5 linked regions of the Homo sapiens genome follow. The protein of the gene in region 2 purifies or fractionates together with the protein of the main gene of each other region. This does not show direct contact. Each region holds a gene or a part of one and is shown on either strand. Other genes may lie near its edges.

The links.
Region 1: the proteins of DCAF8L2 (region 2) and TRPC4AP purify together in Homo sapiens (affinity purification with mass spectrometry; one large-scale study listed by BioGRID and IntAct). This does not show direct contact.
Region 3: the proteins of DCAF8L2 (region 2) and NOP14 purify together in Homo sapiens (affinity purification with mass spectrometry, with the first as the bait; one large-scale study listed by BioGRID). This does not show direct contact.
Region 4: the proteins of DCAF8L2 (region 2) and MTPAP purify together in Homo sapiens (affinity purification with mass spectrometry; one large-scale study listed by BioGRID and IntAct). This does not show direct contact.
Region 5: the proteins of DCAF8L2 (region 2) and KCNN4 purify together in Homo sapiens (affinity purification with mass spectrometry; one large-scale study listed by BioGRID and IntAct). This does not show direct contact.

Annotation. Positions count from the first base shown.
Region 1 is NC_000020.11:35,001,904-35,008,679, forward strand, and holds the end of TRPC4AP (short transient receptor potential channel 4-associated protein), read right to left. Parts: coding exon 6,761-6,776; intron 5,965-6,760; coding exon of another isoform or gene 5,925-5,964; exon of another isoform or gene 5,745-5,924; intron 5,738-5,744; coding exon 5,647-5,737; intron 4,673-5,646; coding exon 4,532-4,672; intron 3,901-4,531; coding exon 3,792-3,900; intron 2,668-3,791; coding exon 2,555-2,667; intron 2,462-2,554; coding exon of another isoform or gene 2,237-2,461; exon of another isoform or gene 2,188-2,236; coding exon of another isoform or gene 2,137-2,187; exon of another isoform or gene 1,970-2,136; intron 1,714-1,969; coding exon 1,507-1,713; intron 1,381-1,506; coding exon 1,243-1,380; 3' UTR 501-1,242; downstream 1-500. Other genes in the region: MYH7B (myosin-7B), read left to right, coding at 45-182, 256-285. UniProt on the Homo sapiens protein: Substrate-recognition component of a DCX (DDB1-CUL4-X-box) E3 ubiquitin-protein ligase complex required for cell cycle control.
Region 2 is NC_000023.11:27,589,195-27,593,143, reverse strand, and holds the start of DCAF8L2 (DDB1- and CUL4-associated factor 8-like protein 2), read right to left. Parts: upstream 2,801-3,949; 5' UTR 2,704-2,800; intron 1-2,703.
Region 3 is NC_000004.12:2,953,021-2,959,392, forward strand, and holds part of NOP14 (nucleolar protein 14), read right to left. Parts: intron 4,721-6,372; coding exon 4,586-4,720; intron 3,792-4,585; coding exon 3,650-3,791; intron 1,544-3,649; coding exon 1,404-1,543; intron 626-1,403; coding exon 491-625; intron 1-490. UniProt on the Homo sapiens protein: Involved in nucleolar processing of pre-18S ribosomal RNA. Has a role in the nuclear export of 40S pre-ribosomal subunit to the cytoplasm.
Region 4 is NC_000010.11:30,313,256-30,319,627, reverse strand, and holds part of MTPAP (poly(A) RNA polymerase, mitochondrial precursor), read left to right. Parts: intron 1-3,417; coding exon 3,418-3,510; intron 3,511-3,591; coding exon 3,592-3,665; intron 3,666-5,656; coding exon 5,657-6,019; 3' UTR 6,020-6,372. UniProt on the Homo sapiens protein: Polymerase that creates the 3' poly(A) tail of mitochondrial transcripts. Can use all four nucleotides, but has higher activity with ATP and UTP (in vitro). Plays a role in replication-dependent histone mRNA degradation.
Region 5 is NC_000019.10:43,763,435-43,768,777, forward strand, and holds the end of KCNN4 (intermediate conductance calcium-activated potassium channel protein 4), read right to left. Parts: intron 4,274-5,343; coding exon 4,109-4,273; 3' UTR 4,106-4,108; intron 3,656-4,105; 3' UTR 3,099-3,655; downstream 1-3,098. UniProt on the Homo sapiens protein: Intermediate conductance calcium-activated potassium channel that mediates the voltage-independent transmembrane transfer of potassium across the cell membrane through a constitutive interaction with calmodulin which binds the intracellular calcium allowing its opening.

The sequences.
Region 1 (6,776 bases), on a different chromosome or scaffold from region 2:
TCTCAGTCACCCAAGCGGAACCAAGGCCCTGTGTGTGCCCCCAGGAGCAGCAGGCCAACACCAACCTGGCCAAGTATCGCAAGGCCCAGCACGAGCTGGATGATGCGGAGGAGCGGGCAGACATGGCGGAAACCCAGGCCAACAAGCTGCGGGCACGGACCCGGGACGCCCTGGGCCCCAAGGTGAGGAGTGGCAGGGGCATTGCTCTCTGTGCAGGGGGACTGTGGGGGCTGACAGGTAGTACTGCTCACTCAGCTATCCCTTTCTCCTCAGCACAAGGAGTGACGGCCTGACCCCCTGGGCTCTAAAGAGGAATGTCTGCTGTTGCACATCTGGCTGAGGCCACCTGCCCCGATCCTGCCATCTCTGCATCGCCCCCTGCTGCCTTCAGCCTTCCCTGGGCCCTGAATAAACACCACAGCCAGTTTCCTTCTCATTCTTTTCTTTGGGGTTCAGGAGGAAAAACACAGTCCTAGGGACAAAAGCCAGGTCCACAGCAGTCATTTTTAAAATAAAGTTATTTAATAGTCTCCATTTAATTGGTTTATTTGCTGTTAATAAATTGGCAACACAAGGAAGGGCCCCATGTCCAGGCTCAGGCAGGAGCGGCTGCCTCAGGCAGAGGCAGGGCAGGCACAGCTGCCCCGTGCCCCAAGGGATGGAGGGAAAGGCCCCTCACTTCTGGGAGAACCCCCTTGGATGAACACAGCGGCCAATGAGCAAACAGAACCAGAGGAGCTACAGGAAAATGAGGCAGAGGGGCAGGCTTGGGGGAAGGCAGCATTCTCTGGTACCCACCACCCCTGCCCAGGGCTCAGAAGCCTTTGCCTGGGTCCAAAGGCCAGGGACAAGGGAGGCTTGGCTCACAGATGGGGGGTGGGGGTCACCCATATCTTCCTCCCCACTCTGGGACTGACTGACAGCCAAGAAACCGGCAGGAGCTCACACAGAGCTAATGCTAAATGTCCTCTTACCTCTGGGTGGCCCTGGGCCCCAGGGTTCTGAAGGAAAGGTGGGCATGGTACCCTGTCCTCATTATGGGGACTGAGGCTCTCCATGACCTAGGGCCCTCAGACCCAGGGGGACCAAGGGCTTCTAGGACTTCCCTCCCACCAAGCCTGTACCCAAAGACCTGGGGCAGGCAGAGAGCAGCAGGGAGGAACGGGAACAGGGCAGGGCGTGTGGCATCGTACCCACGCTCACCCACACTGGCCCAGCAGCCTCCCGAGGCCTGGCCCAAGGTCACTCCTCAGTGAAGTCCCTGTCTATGTCCATGTAGGGCTCCTCAATGTAGCTAACGAGAGCAGAGGGTGACTGCCGGTCCGGGTTCAACAGGATGGACACTGTCTCCTTCCAGTATGAGAAGCTGATGCAGGAGCTCTGGGCAAAGAGGGAGGGGCTGGGGGGCGCCTGGAGGACCCAGGTCAAGCCCAGCACCGGGACACCCCTCTGAGAGGCCCTGGGTCCGCGGCCCACCCATCACCCCCTTGAGGGTGGGGCACTCACGTTCTCTAGGCAGGTGCTGTCCTTGTCCTTGTGCAGGTAGTGCTGCTGCCAGAAGCGCAGCAGGTTGTGGAAGTTGTTGAGCAGGAAGCCGGGGTACTTCTTGCTGTGCTCCATCCGCTGCAGCAGCCGCAGGTACAGGGGCAGCCGCTCTTTCCGTCGGGCCAGCATCAGGATCACCAGGCTGGTGTTGAGGCAGCTGACGTTCTCCTGCAAGGCCACAGGCCCACAGGGTCAGGGGCTGGTGGGAGCCCCAGTGGCCCCTGGTGAACCTGGGTAGCCATCAGGCAGGGAGGAGAGTGGCCCCAGGCCTCGGGCCACCCACAGAGCTCTCCCTGCACAGAGGTGAGATAGGACTGGGGGAAGGGGGCCCCCAGCAGCCCCAGTTTCCTGACTGAGCACCTTCCTCTTCCCCACGCCCACCTCCCACCCCACCTGAGGCAACAACACCTGTCCCTGTCCAGACCTGGGCTCAAGCATCACTCCTTCCGGAAGGTCCGTCCCAGGCAGGGCTGGGTGCGTGTGTTGGGGCGGTTATCCCGCTTCAGAAGTGCCATTCAGCACTAGCCTGCGCGCCTCGGTGGGGAAAGAGTTCTGCCCCACTCACCATGCACTCCCACCTGGTGCTTCACCTCAGAACGGAACCAAAGACCACCTCTGAGAGGTGCTAAGATCACCCTCACTCTAGAAAAGAGGGGCAGGAGGCTCAGAGAAGGGAAGGCTGCATGACTATTCAGTGAGGGAGTTGGGCAGCCTCAGGTCCGATTCCAAAGCCCAGCAGGGCAGAAGGTGTGAGGGACGTGGACATGGGGGAGGCGGGGAGAGCACTGGCCTGCAAGTCAGCCTGTGACCTGAGGGCACTTGCGAGCCCTCCTTCCTTAGGCCCTGTCTGTACAATGGGACACTGATTCCTCCTGAGCACAGTCCTCAGAAGAGCTGGGTCTCCAGAGACGCACTTCTGGAGTGGGGGACAGAAACCTGCTGGGCACCAGGACAAAGGAAGTGGTTTCCAATCGACCTTCCCTGCTGTGTGTCTGCCGGGGCCTCTCACCTGGGTCAGCGTCTGCACGTGGATGATGTTGATGAGGCGGAAGAGGAAGGACATCTGCGTGGGCACCTGGGATATGTAGGCGAGCAGGCGGCATTCAGACAGTACCTCGGCAACTGTGGAGGGAGGCAGGGGTGCAGCAGGTCAGGCTTAGGCCCAGTGGCTGGGTCGCCCAGGCCTTTCGTGGAGCCCCGCTTGGGTCCTGACTCTGAAGCTAGGAGCTCATCATCAAAACAGCTTCAACGAAAGCTGACTGTGGCAGAAAGAAGGACCTCCAGCTGTCCTGCTACCAGGCAAAGCCATGTTCTCAGAGTGCCCAGGAGCACCCCACCTCATCCTCCAGAACCAAGCTCAGGGCAGCTCTCCCTCAGCCCTCCCCAGACTGGCTCCAGACCCGTGCCCTCCATATCACACACAGAAGAGTTCCCTCCACAGGAAGATGGATCCATGACGCTGCATTAAGAAAAACAACGCAAAAGTTCCACTCCTTCTGCAGAGGTCCTAGCGCAACTGGTTTTCCACACCAGCTCTCAGGTGAGTCCGGCCCAGTGCTGAGACCACAAGGCACAGGTTCTGCTCCGTCCACTAGTGTCGGAGCAACTGCTTCCCGCACAACTGGGAGGCAGGGCAATAACCGAAGGTACCAAAATCTGTGTGGCTGTTCCCCTGAAACAGACCCTCTGGGGCAGAAAAAGGAAGCAAACGGCTAAATTACCAACAACCGGGATACTTCTTGCTATCAATGACAGTGACCGTGACAAGGAACAAGTGCCTGACTTTTTGGGGGTGTGGGGGGGTCACAAACCCTCAGGAGAATCTGCTGGATGCCACAAGCCCTCTCCTAGGAAAAAAAGGAAACGCGTGCGCATACACATGGAAGTGCGTTAGCAAGTCCAGGAGGGTTCAGATGCCTGCTGCACCACAGGGCACCTGCGATGCCACGCACAGCACACTGAGGACGAGGGGGCCAACTCATCGTGCCAGGCAATACCAGCCCAGAAGAGGAAGGTCTTTTTCTGGTTTTCTTTGCATCTTGCTAGCAACAATGGATTTTCACCTTATTAAAGTGTTGAACAAGGCAGCAAAGCCAATTGCCCTGGAAGCCGCCACCTTGAGGCCGGCCACGTGGGCATCTGGTGCAGCTCCCTCAGTCATTCTTGTCTCCCTGCTGGAGACAGGGTGTCTGATGCCAGCATTCTTACCCTGCATGACTTGCCTTGACAGCCTGCCTTTCATGTACCTTTCATATCCACCTGGTTTTCAAATCGGTCCAGGGACAGAGTGACACAGCGCACCAGCATGTTGGAGTCCACCAGGGAGCTGTTGATCTGCTTCAGGAATACCTGGAACTATACAGAAACCAAGCTCACAGCAGGCAGTGGGCTGCTGGCCAGGTATGGCCATGGCCCGGGGGGATAGTCACTACAAGGGGCATCAGCGACCTCTACCAGCCCCACTGCTTCAGATAGGAAGACAGAGGCTCAGATAAGCTGAGGGACCTCCCCTCACCACCCAGGTACTAAGAGGCACTCCCCGGAATTCAGCACAGATCCGACACTCTCTCCAGTGGTTTTACGCTCAAGGGTGCTGGATTCCTTTAATTTTTACTTTTAATTTTACTTCAGCTAGCCTGAGCTGGGTTTCTGTCACACACACTCGGTGAGCCTAACACACCAGGCCCAGTCCCTCCCTACAGCGGCTCCCACCGTGGCACCCACCATGCTGCGTCACGGCAGGCGCACAAGCCACCCATTCCCACCCTCACTCCCTACCCACAAGCAGCCCCGGTTTTCATCCCTGCATTCCCAGGGTCTAGCACAAAGCCAGACAGAGCAGGTTCCAATGAATGTTTGCCAAAGACTGCCCAGACTCCCCCGTCGTCTCTAACGTAAAACCTGTGCCTAAAGCCTGGCAGACCAGGACTCCAGGTGAACTTCTGGACAACCCAGCACACTCCACAGAGCCCTGGGTTAACTTTACCTTTGCATCGGTGTTGATATATTTATTGAATCTCTTGAATGCATCAACGTTGAACTTCATCAGCTCCCCCAGGAGGTCAAAGTAACTCTGGAGCACATCCCTTGACTTACACTCGCTGTCCACAATGCAGTAAAGGATGTGCTGGGTGAGGAGGGACAGGGTGAAGGTGTCAACGTGGCTGCCCCCACCAGGGCCTGGCATGGAGCTCAGACCATGCATTGGCTTTGAGCAAGCATCCTGGGGATGGAACTGGCAACACTGTCTAGATTCTTGTCTGAGGATGCTGGTGGCTCCAAGGACAGGACCAGGCCTGACAGACCTCACCAGGAGGTGGAGCAGACTGGGAATGCAGCACAATCTCTCCCCTGCCCAGGGCGTACAGCTGAAGCCTGTGACCTGCTCTGTGGTCACCAAGATGGCCGGGGTGCTCAGCTCCTAGGTGAGGGGAGCTGTCATCACCAGGTCTAAAACACAGGCCACTGCCTAAGCACTGAGGTCATTCAAGTAAATGAAGGACAGAATTTAAAAGCAAAGGACACATTTTGACCCCATGGTTTGTCTTTGTGTTTATGAACGAAATTGTTTAAATAGAGTTTACACCAAAATACTGAGTTTTCATCAAGAGAATAAAGCCAATTTACTCCTTTATAAAGTTTTCTACATTTTCTTGAAGTTACATTGATTTGGATCAATTCTTTTCCACATGGATTTTATAATTCGTGGGTCAGTTTCTTGTCCATATGAAAAAATCTGAAAGACCAATTATAACTTTGGCCATTCTGCTCTAAGTTTTACTTTTTCTGAAGACCATTATTCAATAAAGGAAAATTAACTTTTAGTACAAAATATCTTCAGGGTCAAAATGCCTTGCTGGGTAACCAAACTGTCACCCTCCTGCATGGCCTGGCCACCCTCTAAACCTGTCACCCCGTAAGCACCCATGGGGAACCCACAGTTGGAAACCCAGGGCAAAATCTAAGGCAGCCTGCACAGGCATTTGGAAGTCACGAGATCTGCTCTGCTCCTGATGAACTGTTTGGGGCTCAGGACAGGACACAGCAACGCGTGGGCTGGGGGGAGACGGAACCCAAGACACTGGCTGCTCCAGATCATACCTCCAAGAGGCCTCGCTTCAGCAGGAACATCTGGTCTGCATAGGAGGTGGTCCCTCGGAGGAAACTCTCCACAGCCCGAGCTTGCCAAAACCTGCGACCCAAATACTGGCTCAGGTGGCTAAGGCTGCCCTCTTCCGGCCCATGTTCAGTTCTCCAAGGGGTTGGGAGATGTTTGTTGCCTTTTCATGTACTCAACATTTACTGAACATCTACCAAGCATCAGGCTTCATCCTGGGCCTGGGGACACAGCAGTGCCCCCATCCTCACAGAGAGCCAGCTCAGTGGAGAAGTCTTCTATCTGGGTCTGTCTGGAAGGGGCTGTGTCACAGAAAGGGTAACATCTGGGATCGAAGGGCTGGCTCCTGCGAGCCCCCGTGAAACATACTCTAGGCCTTGCCCTTTCACAAGAATGGGAGGACGTGCAATTGAGGGGCCAGGAATGTGTGTGGGAAGCGGACGAACACATGCAGACAGGCCACTGGGCTCACAGACGATGGGCTGGCCTAGGGAAGTAGTGGTTGATGCTGACCGAGGGACCCAGAGGGCACAGCGGGTATCCACGACAGGGAGTTTGGACAAGGCACTGAAGTGACAAAGGCCCATGTGGGCATGAAGCCTCCTGACAGCTCACGCCCGGCCCTGATGGAACTCTACCTGTCCACTGACTTCAAGACTCATCTTAGATGTATCTAAGGACCTCAGAGAAGGTCTCCCTGTATTCACCCAGCCCCCAGCCCTAGCAGCGGAAGAGGCTTTCCTTTGCTGCTATAGCTCCTGGGCCAACCCTGGCTCCATTCCTTCCCACACTGCATTGAAACAGCACAGCTCTAGGGAATTCATGGCAGGGCCCGTATCCTAGTTCTCTCCCACCCATAAGGCACCAGCACAGAACAGGTGCTTGGTGAATGCTCGGTCACTGTGGGCTGCAGAAGAAGCTCTCACATACCTGTCGAGTCAAAACTACACAAGATGGCAGTCAAACCACCTCTCCCCAACAGTAATTGTGCTTCAGGAGGCATGGACGCTGGTGACTAAAGGAGGTATTCCTAACCTCCTGAGAAACACCTGGCTCTGCAGCCCCGCAGAATCGGCAGGTACTTTTCCCCAGACTCACCTGAAAGACGACTCTG
Region 2 (3,949 bases):
GCGTAGTTAATGCCACTGAACTATGCGCTTAAAAATGGTTGAGATGGCTGGGCACGGTGGCTCATGCCTGTCATTCCAGCACTCTGGGAGGCCGAGGCAGGTGGATCACCTGAGGTCAGGAGTTTGAGACCAGCCTGGCCAATATGGTGAAACCCCGTCTCTACTAAAAATACAAAAATTAGCTGGGTGTGGTGGCGGGCACCTGTAATCCCAGCTACTTGAGAGGCTGAGGTGGGAGAATCGCTTGAACCTGGGAAGTGGAGGTTGCAGTGAGCCAAGACTGTGCCACTGCACCCCAGCCTGGGCAACAGAGTGAAACTCTGTCTCAAAAAAAAAAAAAAGGTTGAGATGGTTAATTTCATGTTATGTGTGTGTTTTACCACAATTAAAAAACAATGCCCACTGGCCAGATGCGGTGGTGGCTCACACCTGTAATCCCAGCACTTTGGGAGGCTGAGGCGGGCAGATCACGAGGTCAGGAGATCGAGACCATACTGGCCAACAAGGTTGAAACTCCATCTCTACTAAAATACAAAAAAATTATCCTGTCATGGTGACATGCCCCTGTAGTCCCAGCTACTCAGGAGGCTGAGGCAGGGGAATCGCTTGAACCCAGGAGGCGGAGGTTGCGGTGAGCCAAGATCATGCCATTGCACTCCAGCCTGGGCAACAAGAGCGAAACTCTGTCTCAAAATAAATAAATAAATAAACCAAAAAAAAAAAAAACAAAAACAAACAAAAAAAAACAATGCTCTCCTGCACACCTACCTCCTGGGGAGAATGGCAGGGCCAGCACCCTTGACAGGAACGTGCCCCGGCTCCATGCCTCTGGATGTGGTGCGGCAGCACATGCAGTTCCCCAGGGGGACGTGAAAGGAGGCTGTGTGAGGATGCCAGATGGCAGAGCTGAGGCCCAGGTACTATGACGAGGCAGGAGGAGGGGGCCCCACAGCTCATCCTGCCCCACGCACCTCACTCAGCCCTGGACGGGGCCAGGCAGCAGCAGGCGCTACTCCTCCTACCCATCTGCATCGCCCTCGCCTTCTCTCTCACCACGGTGGTCAGCAGCCACTGGTGTGAGGGGACCCGGTGGGTGGTGAAGCTGCTGTGCCAGGACCTGCCAGGAGGGCAGCACTGCGTTCACTTCAAATGGGACAAAAGCAGCGATGGCAGGATGGACGACAACCAGGCTGTGCTGTACATTTGGGAGCATTTTCCTGTAGTTAATATTAGTGTGTCTGCATACTGAAAGTTAGGATTTAAGCTATGTTGATTGAAATTTTCTTCCCACTTAAACTATTGTCTTCTTAAAGACAGGGAACATGTTAACATTTCAGTCAGACATAGTTAAAAAGACTAATCTAAACAAGAACAAGACACTTTCCAGCATCACTACGGTATGATACAGTTTCTTAACTTCCCTGAGCCTTCGTTTATTGTTTTTTACCTGTATGCAGAGAAATATAATGTATGCTCTGCTTTCCAGATATAGATATTATAATGATAAAATAAAATAATACATATAAAAGAACTTTGCTACCTATAAGATACCATGAAAGAAAGATGTTTGTTTATTACTACGCTTTCAATAGCAGTTTCTAACAAGATGAAAAGGAGAGTGGGGAGAGAGAAGGGAAGAGGGAGAGAGAGGTAGAGGGAAGGGGGAGAAGCAACAACTTACTGCCTTATTTTTATAAATGTAGAGAGCATCATAATTCTGTAAACCACTGTTCTAAGCCAGTCTCCTCAATGGGGTAAAAGAGGATGATCAGGGAATTGAAAATGTGGGAGGTTTTGGTTATCATAGTATCTGGAAAGTGTTATTGCATTTATGGGATTGGGTAGCTGCTATGCTAAACTTTCTGTAGCCTGCTGGATACTAACACACACACAAATTACCCCACCCAAATGTTATTGGCAAATAGCTAAGCCTAGCAAACATTTTTTGAAAAACTTTTCTTTTCCTATTTGAATTAAATAAGTTGAATCACACACCAGTACATGTATTTTCAAATTCAGGATGAAGAAAAACCCCCAGCATTTATGATATACCAAATATAGTCCTACTGGTATGCTTATATGATAAAGTATTTTATAAAATGTAATGTAACCTATCAAATTATTTATTTATATATATATATATATATATATAAAATGTAAAGGCTTTTATAAACATTTAACATAAATGTGTTATGGTGCTGGCAAAGTGTGGTGGCTCATACCTGTAATCCCAGCTCTTTGGAAGGCTGAGGTGGGAGGATAGCTTGAGGCCAGGAGTTCGAGACTAGCCTGGGCAACAAAGCAAGACCCCATTTCAATTTTAAAAATATGAATTTATTATGGTGCTATGTAGGTCTAACATTATAAGATGAATTATCTCTATTCCGTCTTAATATTTGAGATAGTGTAGGAATATTTTCATATCAATGTATTAGAAAGTTCTGGTGAGAATATACTTTACTAGAAGTGCAGCATTGTGTTTAAAAAGAGAAAAACAAGTAAGATTTCTCATATTGTGCCCCAGGCAACTGTAAAATTTTCTGTAAAATTAAGAAACAAGACTATTTCCGCTCAGTATTATTTAAGGTAACTTTCAATCACAGAGGGATGAATCCAGTTGTCTTCATACTAGAAAGATCTCTGCAATTAAAAATTAACCCCACTCCCAAAATCATTGTTGAAATCAAAATATTGATTACATACCATAGACTCGAGTCATTCGCCTTCCTCTGCATTTGAACAGTGCAAGACGTCTTCTAAATAACCTTGTGGGGAGGATGTTCAGCTTTTGCGACTCCACAGAACAAAACTATCTCTCATGGTTCTTATTGCAGTTTACGTGAGTCTTTCCCACGCTGTAAGCAAGTAAAGTATCCAAATGCACCATTTTATCAAGCGCTCCATGGTCCAGAGGCAGGATATTTTGAAAGTTTGTGGCTAAAGTTGTGGCTCTCTAGTTCCATCCTAATCTAATTTTGATAATAGGACCTTACAGTTTCTAGTACTTGTAGAAAAAAAACCTAAATTAATTCATTTTCTTCTTGGATTCCAGTAATTGTTTGGGATTTGTCTTCTACCAGTTGCTTTTGAGAAAGATATTGATTTCTGGATTTCTTTAACTAATCATTGCTTTCAAGAAAAGCACTGCTCATGTCCATGCAGTTCACACCTATTTTTACAGTGATTCAGTCTGGAAAGTGAAGAGGCAGAATATAAATGTTAAAGAAATATTACTAATGGTAGATATGGTAATATCATCAGTTCAGGAGCAACTTTGCTTAGTTTGTCCTTTATGTGCTCTACAGGTTCAATTTAATTGAAAGGGGGAAAGGAGTAAGAATCAAAGTTTTGAATTTACACACATGGTTTATTCTTTTAATATATGACATTTTGATTAAAATACTTTCATTTCTGTCAAATCCAACATTACTTAGAGCCAAGTTTAGTTTTTTGGAAAACTTGCAAAATCAATCTTCTTCCTTCCTTTTTTATGTGCAAATCATGGGAAGATAAAATTCAAATAAAATGTTTCTAGACATAGTGACTTGATAATTTCTTTCTGTTTGGTAAATTGATCTTTCATGTTTCCCCACAGGATATAAAATTTCCAGAAAAATATATAAGATGGTATGAAGCTATGAAGCTGATTAAATATGGTATGTAGCAAATAAATTTAATTAATTCAAAATAATATTCATTTCACCATATCCAAGGCTGGGCCTACATGGTAAGTGCTTGCTACATTTATTCTCCAAATTCTTTCTTGCAATGCATTTGCCTTATTTACTCCTTTCCTTCCCATATCCACAAAACATAGTTTCTCTGTGGATAGCACATTCATGGCCTGATAAACAGCTTTCTAATACAATATATAACCTCTCTGTAAACATTTTCTTAAGCCCATGACCACTCTATAACATTGTAAGTTCTCCAGCTGATAAATGGGAAG
Region 3 (6,372 bases), on a different chromosome or scaffold from region 2:
CTGACTGACAAAGATGCACAGATGACCACATGACACTAATCTGCTGGGATCTAGACTTCTCTGAGAACGCAGTTTCTTAAACAAATGCAGCATTTTCCAATAGTTTCGACTAAAGAGAATGCAGTAGGAAACAACTGTTTACAGAGGCAAAAATAAGTAAATGTATATTAAATGTATGTATTATGTATCAACAGACAAACATGTCACAGGGAAGTTCAGACACCTATTCTAACGTGTCCACCCTGAAGTACTTCTTCCATCCAGAAACACCACTTTTTTCAGTTTAATTCACCTGCAATAGAGACTCAAGTAACTGAATCTACTTCCACCCCAAGATTACACACAGCAGGTAATTCAGTATCAATGTTCAACAGAAACTTGCCCTAAAGGAGACAGGTAGAAGAGCCGTCCAGCCCCAGCCCTTTCTCTGGAGAAAGTCGGTCACCCAAGCTCAGTGAGTGAAGAGTTTGTTTCAGTACTTGGCTCCCACCTTGGGTTTTTCCTTTTTGTCTCTGTTCTCTGACTTGGGAGTTTTGTGGGACAGGAGAGTCTGAATTTCTTTCCAGTCTTGGTCTAGCTTCTCCGTGAGCTCGAGGGCATCTTCTCGTTGAGCTTGTCTCTCCCTCTGGGGAAAAAATAACAGACACACACCACATACCGTTACTACTGGACTTCAACCCAGAGGCCCAATGTCAGTGCCAAGGACACACACAGTGATCACTCAGTTGGCACCAAACGTTTCAACACAGAAAAGAGGCCAGGAGAAATGAGTATTTTAAATGCAAAGCTACCAAATCTCATCAGACGGAAATCTTTTCCTGCCATAAACCATTAATTTAGATGCTCTGAGCAGTTCACTGCAAATGAATAAAAAAGTGATTTTTTGGGCACATGTCAGATACTAAAACCAGCAACAACAAAAAACCCATCCGCGCCAGGTGCAGTGGCCCACCCTGTGCTTTAGAACTAGGCCAAGGTGGGAGAACTGCTTGAGCCTGGTCGACACAGCACGATCCCCATCTCTACAAAAAGTAATTAGCTGAGCATGGTGGCGCCCACTAGCTACTTGGGGAGCTGAGGTGGGAGGATCACTGGATCCTTGAGCCCAGGAGTTTGAGGCCACAGTGAGCTTTGATCGTGCCACTGTACTCCAGCCCGGGAAACAGAGACTACGTCTCAAAATAAAACAAAACATAAACCAAAAAAAGGCAAAAGAACCAAAACCTGTCCGAGGTATATGCTTTATGTGATTTTTAAAATTCCTACTCACAATAAATGCTTTTACTGAACTCATATAAAATATTAAACACAGCCTAAAAAGGTACAGGAAAAAAAAGCTCAAACACATTTTGGTGAGCCTGTCTTACCGTGGAGAAGATGATCAAGAACACTCACTAACCCACCTTCTCTTGTTTTGACTTGGCAATGAGCTCTTCAATCAGCTCTTTCCGGGACTTCGGTTTCTCCCGCTCCTCGCCTTCCTGTTGAGTCTTCTTGTGAAGGAGCCCACCGCCTCCTCCAAAGTGGGCAGCAGTCAGCTCAGCTGGGGGCAAAAGGCAGAAAACCCCACAGTGAAGCCCAGCCCTGGCGTGGGAAGTGTTTCCTGTAGCACTCTGCCAGTGCTTCCCCCATAGTGGTCTGGAAAAGTCCACATTTGAGAAAAAAATGCTCACACGCAACAGCCTGGCCTGAGACCACAGGCACAATGGCACTTGAGAAATACCCAAGGTAAGCCACTCTGAGAAAACCCAGACCCATTACACTCCCAACTGGCCGTAACCCAAGTGGCTGGAAACACCCAGCACCTATTTTTGATTGTGCTGGTTCTAGCGAAGACTGGCAAACCCAGAGCAAGCTGACTCCAGGGTCTTGGTGGGAGCGTCGCCCAGGATCAGTGGTGCAATCTGTGTCCCTCCCACCTCCCTGGGCAGGGCCTGGAGACTCTAGTCACCTGTACCACGGCGCCCCCTCTAGTCACCTGCACGCCACGGCGCCCCCTCTAGTCACCTCCACGCCACGGCGCCCCCTCTAGTCACCTGCACGCCACGGCGCTCCCTCTAGTCACCTGCGCCACGGCGCCCCCTCTAGTCACCTGCGCCACAGCGCCCCCTCTAGTCACCTGCACCCCACGGCGCCCCCTCTAGTCACCTGCACGCCACGGCGCCCCCTCTAGTCACCTGGACCACGGCGCCCCCTCTAGTCACCTGCACGCCACAGCGCCCCCTCTAGTCACCTGCACCACGGCGCCCTCTAGTCACCTGCACCACAGCGCCCCCTCTAGTCACCTGCACGCCACGGCGCCCCCTCTAGTCACCTGCACGCCACGGCGCCCCCTCTAGTCACCTGGACCACGGCGCCCCCTCTAGTCACCTGCACGCCACGGCGCCCCCTCTAGTCACCTGCACCACGGCGCCCTCTAGTCACCTGCACCACAGCGCCCCCTCTAGTCACCTGCACGCCACGGCGCCCCCTCTAGTCACCTGCACCACAGCGCCCCCTCTAGTCACCTGCACGCCACGGCGCCCCCTCTAGTCACCTGCACGCCACGGCGCCCCCTCTAGTCACCTGCGCCACAGCGCCTCCTGGCAATGAGGGGAAGGCCACTCGCCCAACTCACACCAAGGCAGTTACCTCCAGTCTCGGGGAATTAGGATCTCCCCAGGGAATGCGTTTTATAGCTAAGGGTCCACGAGAAGTCTTGAACAATGAAAAGAGCAAAGACAAAGGCACAGAGGGGTTAAAATAACTGGCCATTCTCTTCACGCCCGTGAAGCCGAGCAGTGGCGGGGCCTCCTGGTGTGCCGCAGATGGCGGGTTCTGCACCACATGCTTGCTGCCCTAATTCCTAAGCCTTTTACCCCCTGGATTAGCCAAATATCAGAAGGCAGCCCCAGGCTTTAACGCCTTAACTTTCACACACTGACAAGACAAAGCTTTGAGAGTCAGTTTTAGATTTGTACACCTTTGTTCTGAAGATGCTGGAAATGGGACCTACTTTAACTTACAAGAAATGTCAAGTAATTGATGTCATGACTGCAACCTTATAAATAGGGTTCAAGACAGTCAGACCCGAACTGAATCTTAAACTCTGTTAACATTATTTAAGGCCAAAATTTATCTGTTTCATGTTGTTATCTACAGATATGAGGCTCAATATGATTTTCCTCAAACTGCTATAATTCCACAGTAGGTAAAAGCTAAAGGAACTACATCAATGCCACTGGTACAAATATTAGGCTGGAATTGATAAAGTAGGGGGAGCAAAGTAGTGCATTCAGTGAGGCACCTGGAGTCAGTGAGGTGGGTTCTCCCCACAGCTCTGACTCTGGCATCGGGCAAAACACCTTATTTCTCTGAGCTCATGGGTAGAACGAGCTATTTTGAGGTTCAAATAAAATAATGGATATCAACATGCTTTCTTGGCCCATAAAAGCATCTATCTACACACCATCTTAAAGTTCTGAAAACTTAAAAAAAAAACAAAAATACATAAAAACTGTCACTTGTGAAATTTGTAGAGAGGTTAATGATCAGTAAAACTTTCATGCAATAACTTTCTCTAGTCTCTAAGAAGAGCAGAAGGTCTAACAATGAACAGACTCTCCCTGACTCCACGCCCACAGGCCCGTGCACAGCACCCCAGCCTCACCAGACAACGTTCCTCGATCCTCAGCATCGCTGTCACTGTCCACAATGTCATTATGCTTCTCGATGTCTGCCAAAGACTGGCCATAATGAGTCAATTCTTCATCTTCATTTAGATTGTAGATGCTTTTTTTCTCATGATGTCGCTGACAGAAGAGAAAAAAAGTTTCCTAAAATTACCACTTCCATTTCACAGCAAAAAAAAAAAGATAAGGTAGATATATATATTTCCATTATATTTGAAATATGACAACGAATCCTAAGCAGCCTTAAAGAGTATTTTGGGTCAACTAAGCAATGATTCATGATTCAGACAGAAATGAAACTCATGGAGGGTAATTCTTTTTTTTCCTTCAGACAGAGTCTCGCTCTGTTGCCCAGGCTGGAGTGCGGTAGAGTGATCTGGGCTCACTGCAACCTCTGACTCCCTGGTTCAAGTGATTCTCCTGCCTCAGCCTCCTGAGTAGCTGGGATTATAGGCATGCGCCACCACGCCTGGCTAATTTTTGTATTTTTAGTAGAGACGGGGTTTCATCACGTTGGCCAGGATGGTCTCGATCTCCTGACCTCATGATCCACCCACCTCAGCCTCCCAAAGTGCTGGGATTACAGGCATGAGCCACCGCGCCCGGCCTCATGGAGGGGAATTCTTAAATAAGCCCAGGGGCCAGTTTCCACTCCAGCAATGCTGCTCAGCTGAGAACTCCTGTGCACACTGCTGCCGTGTAGTAGAGTTAAGGCATTTATCCATTCAGCTAACATTTGCAGAAGAGGTTGCTTCTCCTTTGGCCTAGCCAGATAAGGCACAGGATTCGAGGGCTATCCCCTGGACCTTCCGAGTGCCCAGGAACATGCAAAACATGCAGAGTCAGCCTTCTCCTTGGCCTTGACTTCCCTGTGAAATGTACAGCAAAAACCCTCCTCCAGTTTCTTTCCATACCTGCTGTTCCAGAGCAAACCTCTTCATCATCTTCTCCTCGGGGCTCATGTTGCTGTTGTATTCTCCGAAGCGTTTATCTCTGAATACATTGGATTTATCCCTTTCTTTGTACTCTTTTAGTAAAGTCTGTGTACGCTGGAAAACAGGTCAGAAACAATCTCACAAAAAATTCTTGTGATTTCCACTACAGGGGACATCAGAACAGTGCATACTTTAAAGTTCAGGGCTATGCACAGTGATGTCAAAGTTCACACCCAATCTGCTTTCATGCACGATAGGCTTTCTCTACTAATCACAGAATTTTGAGAAGAGCAAAACAACTTTCAAGGATAATGGGGCAATCACTTTCTTTTCTTCTTTAGAGTCTACCGGTGCCAAAAGGAAGGGTAAAAAAGAACACACTAGTCAAGCTCAAGGCATGAATGGCTCCCTCGGCTGTAACAGCTGCCTTAAGGTTTAAAACGTGCACATTTGGAAAAGTGGAAATGGGTTTAGACTCCTTCCGTCATGGAGGAGGGTACTATTTCCCATCAAAGGTACTCCTAAGAAATGTGTAGTTGTGAGTTCATACTAGACACAAGGCAATAAACAAGTTAGCGAGGTCACAGTTTAGGGGCTTCACCTTTATAACACCAAGAGGAGCAATATTTTAAATACGGTTAGCAAGTATCAAATAATTTGGTTATTTTCCCAGCAGCAACAAAAAAAGACCAAGTTTAACAGTATTCAAAGTTGGCTGTCCTGGAGGTTGAATTCCCTAAAGAAAGCTGTGAGAGGACAGAGATGGGTGAGGAACGAGTGGCCTCTGCAACCTGAGATGGCCACATTGCAAACTCTTTCTTGCTGCGGAACTTCTTCTATTTGCTAAGGAACTGCCATTACACTGGTGTTTACACAGCAATTCCGAAAGGAAATGGCATCAAGGCAAAATCTTGATGCCATGGAAGGCCCTTGGAATGATCCAATTCAGTGGTTTTACAAACCCACCACAAATCGGTGCCTCGGCAGACATTTGAAACCTCTCATCTAACCCGACTTAAGTGTTCCTTGCCTTCCTCAGGGATTCCTCTAATTTGTGAAGTCACTTTGAAAGAATGCGTGCGTGTGGCAGGAGGGAGCGTGTGGTGACTTGGTCACTGCCACTCTGGTTCCAAGTTCTGTTTCAGGAGGGGACAGGTCAGATTTTGCTCCAGACATAGGTCACTTCCCCAGGGTCGGAGATGAACTTAAAGGCTAAGAAACCCAGATTTAAGGTCAAAACCAGGAGCTGGAAGAGGAGGAAAAGAGAGTGGAAGGGGTTAAGAAGCAGCTGGGCAAGAGCAGAAGATGCTCCAGCAGGGACAGAAGCACGACCTGGCCCTCCTTTCCATTTAGAGCACATTCCATCTGGAGAGGTCAACCGAAATATTAATCATGTGGACAGGAGAAAAGGATGTGAAAAAACCATTTCTCTTATCTCACTTTGAAATGTGAAAGTGCTATTATTACACTTAAAATGCATGAAAAACCCCTCTGCTACCTGAAGAGTAGGAAACCATCCATTAGTTCAATAAATACTGCCAAGGCAATTTTCGTCATTTTCTTCAAGAATATTTCAAGAACCAATTTGTTTCAACTGACACACGCTGAGTTATTAATCCCTAGTAACTTCTAGTAACTTCCTACCGTGGCAGTGCTAAACAATGTTTGTTAAAAACACCTTTGGGGCCGGGCGCGGTGGCTCACGCCTGTAATTCCAGCACTCTGGGAGGCCAAGGCGGGCGGATCACGAGGTTAGAAGATCAAGA
Region 4 (6,372 bases), on a different chromosome or scaffold from region 2:
CTTTTCCTTTTTTTTCCCTCCAAAATCCATGGTTTTTATACTTTCTAATTTTGACCAGTAGTTCAACTTTGGTGGACATTAAACCTAAGGAAGAAAACAATTTTAAACTGTGAAACAATCAAAACCATATTGAGTACTTGGTGTTTAATCATGTAAGTGACCTGAATCTTGTGTACAATCATTTCATTTCTTCTAAGCTGTACCTCTCATTTGATATACAAATAATCAATTTGTTCTTTTTTAAAAGAAAAAATATTTTATTTGCTTCCTTGCTTGTTTATTAATAGAAGGCAACATGAATTCCTAGAATACCTTCCAGAACTTCTAGGATTTTGTAAACTACTATTTAGAACCTAAGCTAAGCTAAAGACCAAACTTTTTCACATTGTATGCAGGGCCCTTTATCACCTTCCTTTTTATCCTCTTCTTTTACGTTGATTCCTGTATACCAGTTGGGAGCTTTAGCCACTCTTGAACTCCTTGATGATCCCTGATGTTTTGTGCTTTTTTTCATTGCTCCATGCTTTTGCCTGAAATGGCCTTCTCCCAGCCTCCCCCTCCCAGCCACCCCGCTTTTTTTTATGGAGAATCTCAAGATTAAGCCAGAGAAGACAGACAAACCTAGTACAGGATCTCATCTGTTAGGTCTTTTCTTGCTGTCCTCTCTGCTTCCCAGTGGGTAGTGCTTTGTTGGTTTCCAAGCTCTTGGTACACACCTGTATTGTAACAACTGTTAGATTGTTGTAGTTCTTTTATGTGCCTGCCTCAGCATTGTCAAGCTTTTCTAGGGCTAGCTGTCTGCTTCACCTCTGCGTCTTCTGTTCTCGGAATAGTATTGGGTTCATAGTAGGAGTTCACTATGTAGATTTCAAAATGATTGGATAACATTTTAAAGTTGAGGGCTGTTTGTACTGGGCAAGATGGACCATGATATTAACTTTCATATTTGGTTCCTCTTGAATTGCCCTGTTTATTTGTGTTTTCTTATAATCTCCACTGTGTTCTCTCATATGTCTCATTTTCTTGTGTTTTCCATGCTTTCTGGCTTTGCTACTTTTGTTACATTTACTTCTGTGCTTAGTGCTTTAATTGAAGATTCATTCCTGAAAAAAGACACAGCAGCTAAAAGAGCATCAATATATGTGACTGACACTGCATCACAAAAAAACATACACTGTTAATTACTTGAAATAGTAAAACATGTGCTCAGGTTCCTTAAAAATAGATCTAAGTAGAAATATATATACATACATACATTTTATATAGCTCCTTCAACATATTATAAATTGTATAGTAGAGCACGTAAAATGTGCTATTAAAATGTTAAAACCTAGAATAATTTTTGAGAAATTATGCAGGTAACCAGGTCTTGACAAAAAAATGACAAAAAACACAAAAAATGGGAGATAAATTTATAGGAGGCTTATTTATCTCTCTGGTGATTATAGGCATTTAAAGTCAAATATCAGGGCCGGGCACGGTGGCTCACGCCTGTAATCCTAGCATTTTGGGAGGCCGAGGCGAGTGGATCACTTAAGGTCAGGAGTTTGAGACCAGCCTGGCCAATATAGTGAAACCCTGTCTCTAACTAAAAATATAAAAATTAGCCGGGTGTGGTGGTGTTCGCCTGTAGTTCCGGCTACTCAGGAGGCTGGGGCAGGAGAATCACTTGAAGCCGGGACGCGGAAGTTGCAGTGAGCCAAGGTCACGCCGCCACTGCACTTCAGCCTGGGTGACAGAGCCAGATTCCATCTCAAAAAAAAAATTAAAATATCAGCAGTCATCCAGATTATTGATTATATACCTGCTATATGCTAGATGCTCATTGGGGGCAGGTCGGTGGTGGGGAGTTGGGCAATAATGAATAGGACAGTGGCCTTTGTAATTCCTGACTGGGGCAGAGGAGTGGACAGCATACAAACAGTCACAATGCAGTCAGATAAGTCAAATGGTGAATGGAACAAAAAGGATGGAAAACCAGTTTGGAATTATGAAATGCTTTCAGATAGGAAGTAGCCATTGATGAGATTTCTGAAGAGTGGGAATTTGCTCTTGAAAACAGCATAGTATCTGTTGCAGATAGTGTGGGCCAGGGATTTCATGGTGGTTGTATATTTATGAAAATGATTACCTCTTAAGATATAAATACTAGTAGGAAAGGTGAATATCTGAGTCTAACGTGCTGTTATTGAGTTTGTTTTGCTGAATTACTGAATTCCAGTTAGTCTAGAGTGCTACATTTTAGAAATTACCTGAAGCTTTTTTAGTTAGCATTCAGTTTGTGTCGTGTATGAAGATGATAAGAATGGAATTGGAGATGTAAATTAAGTATTGACTAGAGGTAGTGCTGAAATTTGGTTTGGTGAAAGATGGGGGAACTCCCTACATTTCCATCTACTGTTAGAAAACTGATTACCTCAAAAATTGATTAGGAATCATTGGGTTGTTGAAAGACAATAATTCTAGTATGCTAAATTAAATGTAATGTTAATTTCACTGTGGCATAACTAGTCTCAAATCTTTTTTTAAAATATAACTCCATTAAAAGAAGATAAAAAGATTTGAGATTAGTTATGCCATAGTGAAATTAACATCATTAAATCATAGACAAGAAATTATAGATTAAATCGTTATTTAATCATTCAGTCATAATTATTCAATCATTTATAAAATCTGTGATTTAAATAAAGAATAGAGTAGAAATTTACTTAAATTTGTTTTGTTTTGTTTTGTTTTGTTTTTTGAGATGGAGTCTTGCTCTCTTGCCCAGGCAACAGTGATGTGATCTCAGCTCATTGCAACCTCCGCCTCCTGGGTTCAAGCGATTCTCGTGCCTCAGCCTCTTCAGTAGCTAGGATTACAGGAGCAAGCCACCATGCCTGGCTAATTTTTGTATTTTTAGTAGAGATGGGGTTTCACCATATTGGCCAGGCTGGTCTCGAACTCCTGACCTCAGGTGATCTACCCGCCTCAGCCTTCCAAAGTTCTGGGATTACAGGTGTGAGCCACCGCGCCTGGCCTTAAATTTATTTAAATCATAGATTTGTATTCTGAGGTAGGGAATATCTTTGAAATATGTGAAATAGGCTGGGTGCGGTGGCTCACGCCTGTAATCCCCTCACTTTGGGAGGATGAGGTGGGTGGATCACCTGAGGTCAGGAGTTCGAGACCAGCCTGGCCAACATGGTAAAACCCCATCCCTATTAAAAATACAAAAATGAGCTGAGCGTGGGGGCATGTGCCTATAATCCCAGCTACCCGGGAGGCTGAGGCAGGAGAATTGCTGGAACCTGGGAGGTGGAGGCTGCATTGAGCTGAGATCATGCCGCTACACTCCAGCCTGGATGACAGAGTGAGACTCCATCTCAGGCAAAGAAAAAAAAAAAACACGTGAAATATTTTTTGTTTGTGTTTAAGATGCAGAAGATAAATGTGTAATAGAAGGCAACAACTGCACATTTGTTCGTGACTTGAGTAGAATTAAACCTTCACAGAACACAGAAACATTAGGTAAGTGTCTTTCTGTTTACTTGATCCTTTCTGGATTGAAACAGGCTTTCCTCTGATTGTCCTTGTTTTATTTTCTTACAGAATTACTACTGAAGGAATTTTTTGAGTATTTTGGCAATTTTGCTTTCGATAAAAATTCCATAAATATTCGACAGGTAAATAATGTTTTACTATTTAGTTATTAGTATCTGGTCTTCCACTGTACTAATATTTAATTAACTGTTTTCAAAACACTCTAATAAATGTTATTTATTTCTTTTGTGTAGTAATTTGTAGTAACAAGGAGGTTGATGTCCAGAGAAGTTACATGACTTGACTAAGATCAGTCATCCCTTTATGCCAAATAGTAAAAGCCAGCTCTTTAGCATCTGCCTTGTTATTATGCCATGGGACTTCTGTCCTCACTTAGTGTAATACTGTATCCCTCATGATGTGGAATACATTCCAGAAAGTTTCCTGAAAACTATTATTTACATACAGCTGTTTTTAAACTGGATTTGTGTCTATGGAATAAACTTAAGTCCCAAAGATAGATTTCAGTGATTCCCTCAATTTGAGCCCTTAGGATTTAGGTGTTTTTTTGTTTTGTTTTGTTTTGTTTTGTTTTTTTTTTTTGAGCAAATGAACTTACGATTTGGATTTCTGAGCAGCTGGGATGAAAGACATTTTTTCTTTTCAAAAAGAAACTCAGGCAGAAGTCTAGACAAAATTTGTTTGCAAGTGGGAGATAACTTGGGATAGCCCTCTGTTTGGGTTTATTCTGTTTAGCATTTGGCTACTTGATTACAAACCTTACAAGATTGGCTTCATAAAACACAAACCCAGATATACTTTCTCCTTATTTCTTCACCTCTCCGTTTTTCATCCTTCCCTCTTACCTGCTCATGGACTCTTTGTTAAAATAAAAGATTGGGGAGAGGAGAGAGAAAGGATTCATTCGGAAAGCTTTGCAAATGCTATCTAGAAGGAAAAAGTCATAAGCATACAAAGTTCGTCACCTTTTTTGTACTCCAAAGCTCAGAGATGCCAAGCATGAAATAAGTTAGGGAATATAACAGCTGCTGCTCACATCAGGGAATTTTGACCATTGGCTTTGTAATAGTTAATTAAGTAAATTTATGGTATCATTTGAAAGAGGAAAAGATATATAGACTAATGGCTTATGTTAGTCATATGATTCATAGCTTTAGCTTTTCTTTTTCTTTTCTCTTCTTTTTTTTTTTTTTTTTTTTTGTTTTTGTTTTTTGAGACAGAGTCTCACTGTATTGCCCAGGCTGGAGTGCAGTGGCATGATCTTGGCTCACTGCAGCCTCCGCCTCCTGGGTTCAAGTGATTCTCCTGCCTCAGCCTCCTAAGTAGCTGGGATTACAGGCATGCGCCACAACACCTGGCTAGTTTTGTATTTTTAGTAGAGATGGGATTTCACCATGTTGGTCAGGCCTGTCTTGAACTCCTGACCTCAGGTGTTCCACCTGCCTCGGCCTCCCAAAATGCTTGGATTACAGTTATCTTTTTTATTTCTGTGAGATACTATCTTATGTGGCAGAGCCCTTTTGTTGGATCTATAGGAAGATAATGGAAACTTTTTAGTGTTTTAAATAAATAATGAATAATCCTTTGTTCCTCCTCTTTTTCCTCATCTCATACTTGGGAAACATTAATTAATATATTTAATTTAAGGGTTCTAATTTTGTGTGTTCCTGTTTCTACCATAATAGGTATGCTTTTAGCAAGTCTCAGAAATAAACGTATCTTCATCTTACTTTCTGATTTTTTAATCATTTTTTTCCCTTTCATGCTCTACCTTGTTAGGTAAAAGTTATATTATTTTAAAAATACTTTTGTCGGTTGAGTTAGTCCAGATACCTCTTCTCTGAGCAATGACATCATCATCCATAGATGATAAGCCCTAAGTTATTTCTCCAAAGAACACTCATAAAACTTACAACAGGGAAAAAAAAAACAAAAAATGAGAAGTACACACACCCACCATGCATACATACTCAATCCCCTGAGAAAGAAATTCTTTGCTATGTAAAGTTAATGCTGGTGTTTTATGTGTTTTGACATTTTATTGAGTTAACTGTTTTTATATTTAAGCCCTTCATGTACTTACTCATTTTTTCTTCTGTGTAATAATCTATAGGGAAGGGAGCAAAACAAACCTGATTCTTCTCCTCTGTACATTCAGAATCCATTTGAAACTTCTCTCAACATAAGCAAAAATGTAAGTCAAAGCCAGCTGCAAAAATTTGTAGATTTGGCCCGAGAAAGTGCCTGGATTTTACAACAGGAAGATACAGATCGACCTTCCATATCAAGTAATCGGCCCTGGGGGCTGGTATCCCTATTGCTACCATCTGCTCCAAACAGAAAGTCCTTTACCAAGAAGAAAAGCAATAAGTTTGCAATTGAAACAGTCAAAAACTTGCTAGAATCTTTAAAAGGTAACAGAACAGAAAATTTCACAAAAACCAGTGGGAAGAGAACAATTAGTACTCAGACATGATGGCTGCTACATTGTGTAAAGAACTGGGCTTAGCCTATCAAATGGTCTGTGGACTTACTTGGAAAAACTGATTTGAAACTTTCACAGATCTCAGCTTTCATCTGATGTCACTTTTCATGATCTTCTCATTGGCCCCCTTAACCTGGTCTGAAGTTCTGGGATGTTTTCAGTTTGATCAGTCTGATACTCAGTGGCACTTTATTAAAACATCAGCTGTGGAGTGTGGCGGTGCACACCTGTAGTCCCAGCTGCTCAGGAGGCTGAGGCAGGAGGATCTCTTGAGCCCAGGATTTTGAATCCATCGTGGACAACATAGCAAGATTCCATCTCTAAAAAAAATGAAAATAAACATA
Region 5 (5,343 bases), on a different chromosome or scaffold from region 2:
TGTACCACTGTACTCCAGCCTGGGTGACAGAGCAAGACTCTGTCTCTAAAAAAAAAAGAGCTGGACTCAGAGCTAGACTTTGACAGGAGGGCAGTGGGAGGAATGGGAAGTGTGTGGGTGTTAGAAAGGTCCTCAAGGGCAGTTGGGGGATTTATGAAGGGGAAAGGCCCGTGACTGGCTGTATGACCCTGGGAAGCCCCTGCCCTCTCTGGACCGCCTTTCCCCCACCCAGTCCTCATGAGAGTGCAGGCAGAACAGAAATAGGAGAAGGAAGGAGCCAAAATCACCATGAGACTCAGCTCCTGGAGGACAGAGCCCTCTGATTCATGTCTGCAGCCCAGCTCCTGGCTCAGGGCCTTCAGGAAGTGTTGATTTGGTGAGGGGGGTGCAAAACCTGCCAGAAGTGGGGGCATCCAGGCTTGAGCCCCACAGTGGAGAATGAGGGCAGGCGGGCCAGGGCAGATCCAAGATAATTCAGAACACAGGATCTCTTGTATGTTCTCCTAGGTTCTTAGTCAAAAGCCCCTTTTCACTGGTTCTGACCTTGCCTCAGCTGAAATCAACATGGGATGGCTCAGCTGAAACCAACATGGGGTGGCTTCAGGCCATCCCAGGCATTCAGAGGGTTCGTTTAATGACATTCACTGAGGCCCTGTCTATGTCAGGCCCTTGGTGTTGAAGACGCAATCATGAACAAAAATGAAAATACAATGTGATGGTCTCCTGAGTGTCTGAATGCGCCAGGTGGCTAAGTGCTGGGGCTCTGGGGTCAGGCTGCCTGGGTCACATCCTGGCTCCAAACTGCTTTGCTATGGCTTCGGGCAGTTACCTCATCTGTAAAATGGGACCAACATTGCCTACCTTGCCTCCTTTTGTGAGGTCACTTATTAAAAGGGCTTAGCGTGGTGCTTGACCCATTATTATTATTATTATTATTATTATTATTATTATTATTATTATTATTATTACTACTACTACTACTACTTGAGACAGGGTCTCACTTTGTCACCCAGGCTGGAGTGCAGTGGCACGACCACAGCTCACTGCAGCCTCGACTTCCCAGCCTCTTCAAGTGTTCCTCCCACCTTACCCTCCCAAGTAGCTGGGACCACAGGTGTGTGCCCCCACACCTGGCTAATTTGTTGTCGTTGTCGTTGTTGTTGTTGTTTGAGATGGAGTCTTGCTCTGTCACCCAGGCTGGAGTGCAGTGGCACGATCTCGGCTCACGGCAAACTCCGCCTCCTGGGTTCAAGTGATCTCCTGCCTCAGACTCCCGAGTAGCTGGGATTACAGGCACACACCACCACGCCTGGCTAATTTTTGTATTTTCAGTATAGACAGGGTTTCACCATTTTGGCCAGGCTGGTCTCGAACTCCTGGCCTCAGGTGATCTGCCTGCCTCGGCCTCCCAAAGTGCTGGAATTACAGGCGTGAGCCACCATGCCTGGCCAGACCCAATATTATTATCGTGATAGGGATAGGTTTATGAGGCTATAGGAGTATCAGACAGGGCCTCCTGGAGGAGGGGACATATTAGCCGAGGCCTACAGGAGGCGTAGGAAGGAGTGTTTGCCAGCTAAAAGGGAGTGGAGGCAAGGAAAGAGAGGTCCCAGAAGAATGAGTTTGGCAGGGGCTTTGGCAACACTGCCAGGAGAGCTTCTTGCAGGGGAAGGGTGTCAGCAATATCTGGAGGTCTCATCCAGTTCCTTTCTTGAGTCCCCGCCTTTACTCCCCAGGTGGGCTGGCCTCCAGAGGAAGGGCAGTTCGTGGCAGTGGGTGGCGGAGGCTCCAATTTAGCTCTCAGGGATGAAGGGGCGAGGCTGGCTGTGGACTTTAAGGGAAATCCAAAGATAGCTCAACAGAAAAGGATGACTCGCAGCCTGATCTTCCCCTCAAGAGGAGGGAAGCAAGAATGAATCAGCCTCTCAAGCTGGAATGAAGTTGCGGCGGGAAGTCAGTCCTCGGTTTGTGGCCCAAGGCCACTCTGCCTCTGACTCACCTTGCAGTGGGGCGGGATGGGTGTGAATCTGGGCTCTCCAGCCCGTATTCCTAGCTTCCGGCTGGGGGCCTGAGGGGAGGCCTGGCTCCTCTTGAAACCTCGGTTTCTACATCTGTGCAGTGGGGTAACGAGGGTCAGGAGAGTGGTTATGGTGACTTATAAACAGAGCTGGGCACACAGTAGGGCCTCTGGAAGTGCCAGCCCCCCTCCTTTGCCCCCTTCCCTTTCACATCCTCTCTTGAGCGGATGTGAAACGGGTATGTGGGTGGTTTGGGGAGGTTTGGGGCCTCTGTTAGTCTCTTGATGAGTGAGTTGTCATCTAGATTCTGGTAAGGCATGAATAGAGGGAGAAAAGCAACAAAAAATCAGAAAAAGGGCAGCCACGCATTGTGTGTGAAAATCAAAAACAATAATAAAAATGATTCTTGGCCAGGGACAGTGGCTCACGCTTGTAATCCCAGCACTTTGGGAGGCTGAGGCGGGCAGATTGCTTGAGCCCAGGAGTTCAAGACCAGCATCTGCAACATAGTGAAACCCCATCTCTACTAAAAATACAAAAATTAGCCAGGCGTGGTGGCAGGTGCCTGTAATCCCAGCTACTTGGGGACTAAGGCAGGAGAATCGCTTGAACTCTGGAGGCGGAGGTTGCAGTGAGCCGAAATCGCGCCACTGTACTCCAGCCTGGGTGACAGAGCAAGACTCCATCTCAAAAAAAAAAAAAAAAGATTCTCTCTCACATATTTGGTTCCTACTAAATGCCTCTGGGCTACTCCATGTTTTAATCTTCACAGCAGTTCCATGGGGAGGCAGTCCCATTTCACAGGTGAGGTAAACTGTTCAGAGGTGAAGCCACTTACCCAAGATCACACCACCAGTGGATGGTAGAACCAGGATTTGGACCCTGATCTGTCTGAGTTCAAAGCTGTTGCTCTTTGCCTCAGATCTGGGCAGGGGACTGTTGCTGAGGACTGCCCAGCCTACAGAGTTGGGAGGGCACTTACAGGAGAAGGCCTCTGAGACAGGTTCAGACAAGGCAACAGTCTTCCACTGGACGGTCTGCCAGTTAGGAGTGTAGATATGTTTAGAGAGAAATGGCAACTTCTGGCTTTAACATTTATTACAAAGATAAGAGCAGAGGCTGGTGAGTTACACTTCTTCCTCCCCACCAGGTGCTCTCTGCAGCTCTGGAAAAATGGTGTCCTCTTTGTTGTCCCACCAGGGGGCGCCACCTCCAGCCCCGCCCCAGCCTCATACCCAGTTCTTCAGCTCGGCCAGCGGTAACTGAAGCCTCCCAGAATCCTGGATCCGGGCCCCTAGTACCCTCTTTCCCAGGGACCCAGGAGTCCTGCCTCCAGTCGCCTGCACTTGTAACTGAGAGCTGGAGGTCGTCCATAGCAGCATAGTGAGAGTGTTTTTGATGAGGGTATGCAGAGTGGGGGTGACCATGTTCCCACCTGGGGCCTCAGGTGGGCCAAGGCCTACCCACTTTAGCCAGCGTCCCCTCCAGCAGCCATCAGCAAGCCAACCCACTCCAAGCCAGGGCCCCCTTTGGTCCTTGCACTTGAGGTGCTTTGTTCAGGGCTGGGTCAGGAGTGGCAGAGACGATGTCCACCACCTCAGTACTGGGGAAAGTAGCCTGGTTCCTCCTCGTGGGTCCTGGAGAGACAGAGAGACTGATGGAGAGGCAGGCCAGGAAGAGGGAGAGTGAGAGTGGGACACACCGAGGTGCAGACAGAAACCGGTGGGCAGAAGTGGGAGACAGGGGGCAGGTGTTTCCGGGCCCCGAGGCCAGGGGGCAGGAGGGCATTTAGACAGAGACATTGGATGGACAGCCAGACAATGTGCCCAGGACAGGCAGAGAGAGAGAGAGAGACCAAGCAAAGAGGGAGAAGGCCATCAAGGGTCAGTGAAGGGGAGAGGGTACACCATCTTCCTTCACTGCCAGTCCAGCCCCGAACTGAGTCCTTTCCTCCAGACAGTGCCAGAGCTGATGAGAAAAGGCGGCCTTGTCTCCCAGCCATCCCCCGCCCCCTTAGCCACATAGGGTGCTGGCCACAGGAACCCTTCCTCCAGGATGCCTTCCTGCCCAAGTCCCAGCCCCCTCACCAGCTACTTGGACTGCTGGCTGGGTTCTGGAAGCTGCCTCGGCCCCAGGGCAGTGCTAAGCAGCTCAGTCAGGGCATCCAGCTTCCCCGCCAGCGTGTCAATCTGTTTCTCCAGGGCCCGGTGTGAGCTGCTCAGATTCTGCTGCAGGTCATACAGGATCATGTGCATCTGGGTGGGAGGAGAGGATCAGAGGTGTCGGGGCTGGGGTCGACCCCCACCTACTCCATAGCGTAAGGCAATGGAACCAATATTGACCACATCCTTATGGTCCTCTGAGGATTACCCTCGACAATAACTGTTACCATGTATTGACCACCTACCACTTCCCAGCTACCTGCCCAGGTGTTTCCCTATATGGTTTAAAATCCTCCCAAAAGCCACAGGGAGTGGGAATCCTGTTCCTGTCTTACAGCTGAGGAAACAGGCATGGAACAGTTAAATGACATGCCCAAAGCAGCTCCTGAAATAAGACCTAGAACATAGCAGGTGCTCATTAGATATTTCTAGCATGGATGATGCCTGACTTCCAAATCCACATAGTCTTTTACTGCATTCTCTGGCTAGGATTCACTAGTTGATCCCTGAGGGTTTGTGGATTTTCTATGGAAATTCTTGAATTCTGTGTTTTTGGCTTGATAACCTTCAGAAATTACCACCTGCCAATTCCTGCAGATCTGGGCCACTGCCTCGTCACTGAGACCTGCCATGCGGTTTTGGGGCCTGCATCTGTGACCGTGCTTACCATGGCATTGCTGCCAGGGGCCACTGTTTGAACTGTCGTGGGCTAACGAGAAAAAGCAAAGGCCACCAGATAAGCAGAAGATGCTGTGAGCCAGGCCAAGGGGGTGTTGTGACATCATTGTCCCTAAGCACTGGCGAAATCAAATGGTCTCAGCAGAAGAAGGGGGCGGGTAGCTGAGTCACGCCTTGGCCAGGCAAACTTGCATGGACGTCCCTGTTGCCCTGAGTACCCCTCCACAAGAGCAGCAGAGATTGAGTTTTACGGAAACAATGTCACCTGTGTCCTTGTCAGTGTTGTTCATTTTAATTGTATTGGTTTTGCCGTCTATGGGCTTGGTTTGTAAATTTGCTTTGGTTTTATTGTATGAGCTGTAGTTGGAAGGAATTTTATATCCGTCCACATGTAAGTAACTTAACAATAAAGATAATTTGAAACCAAACACTGGGGTTCTTTGTGCAATTTTTTTTTTTTCAGTTTGTAAGGGATCTGTGCCTTT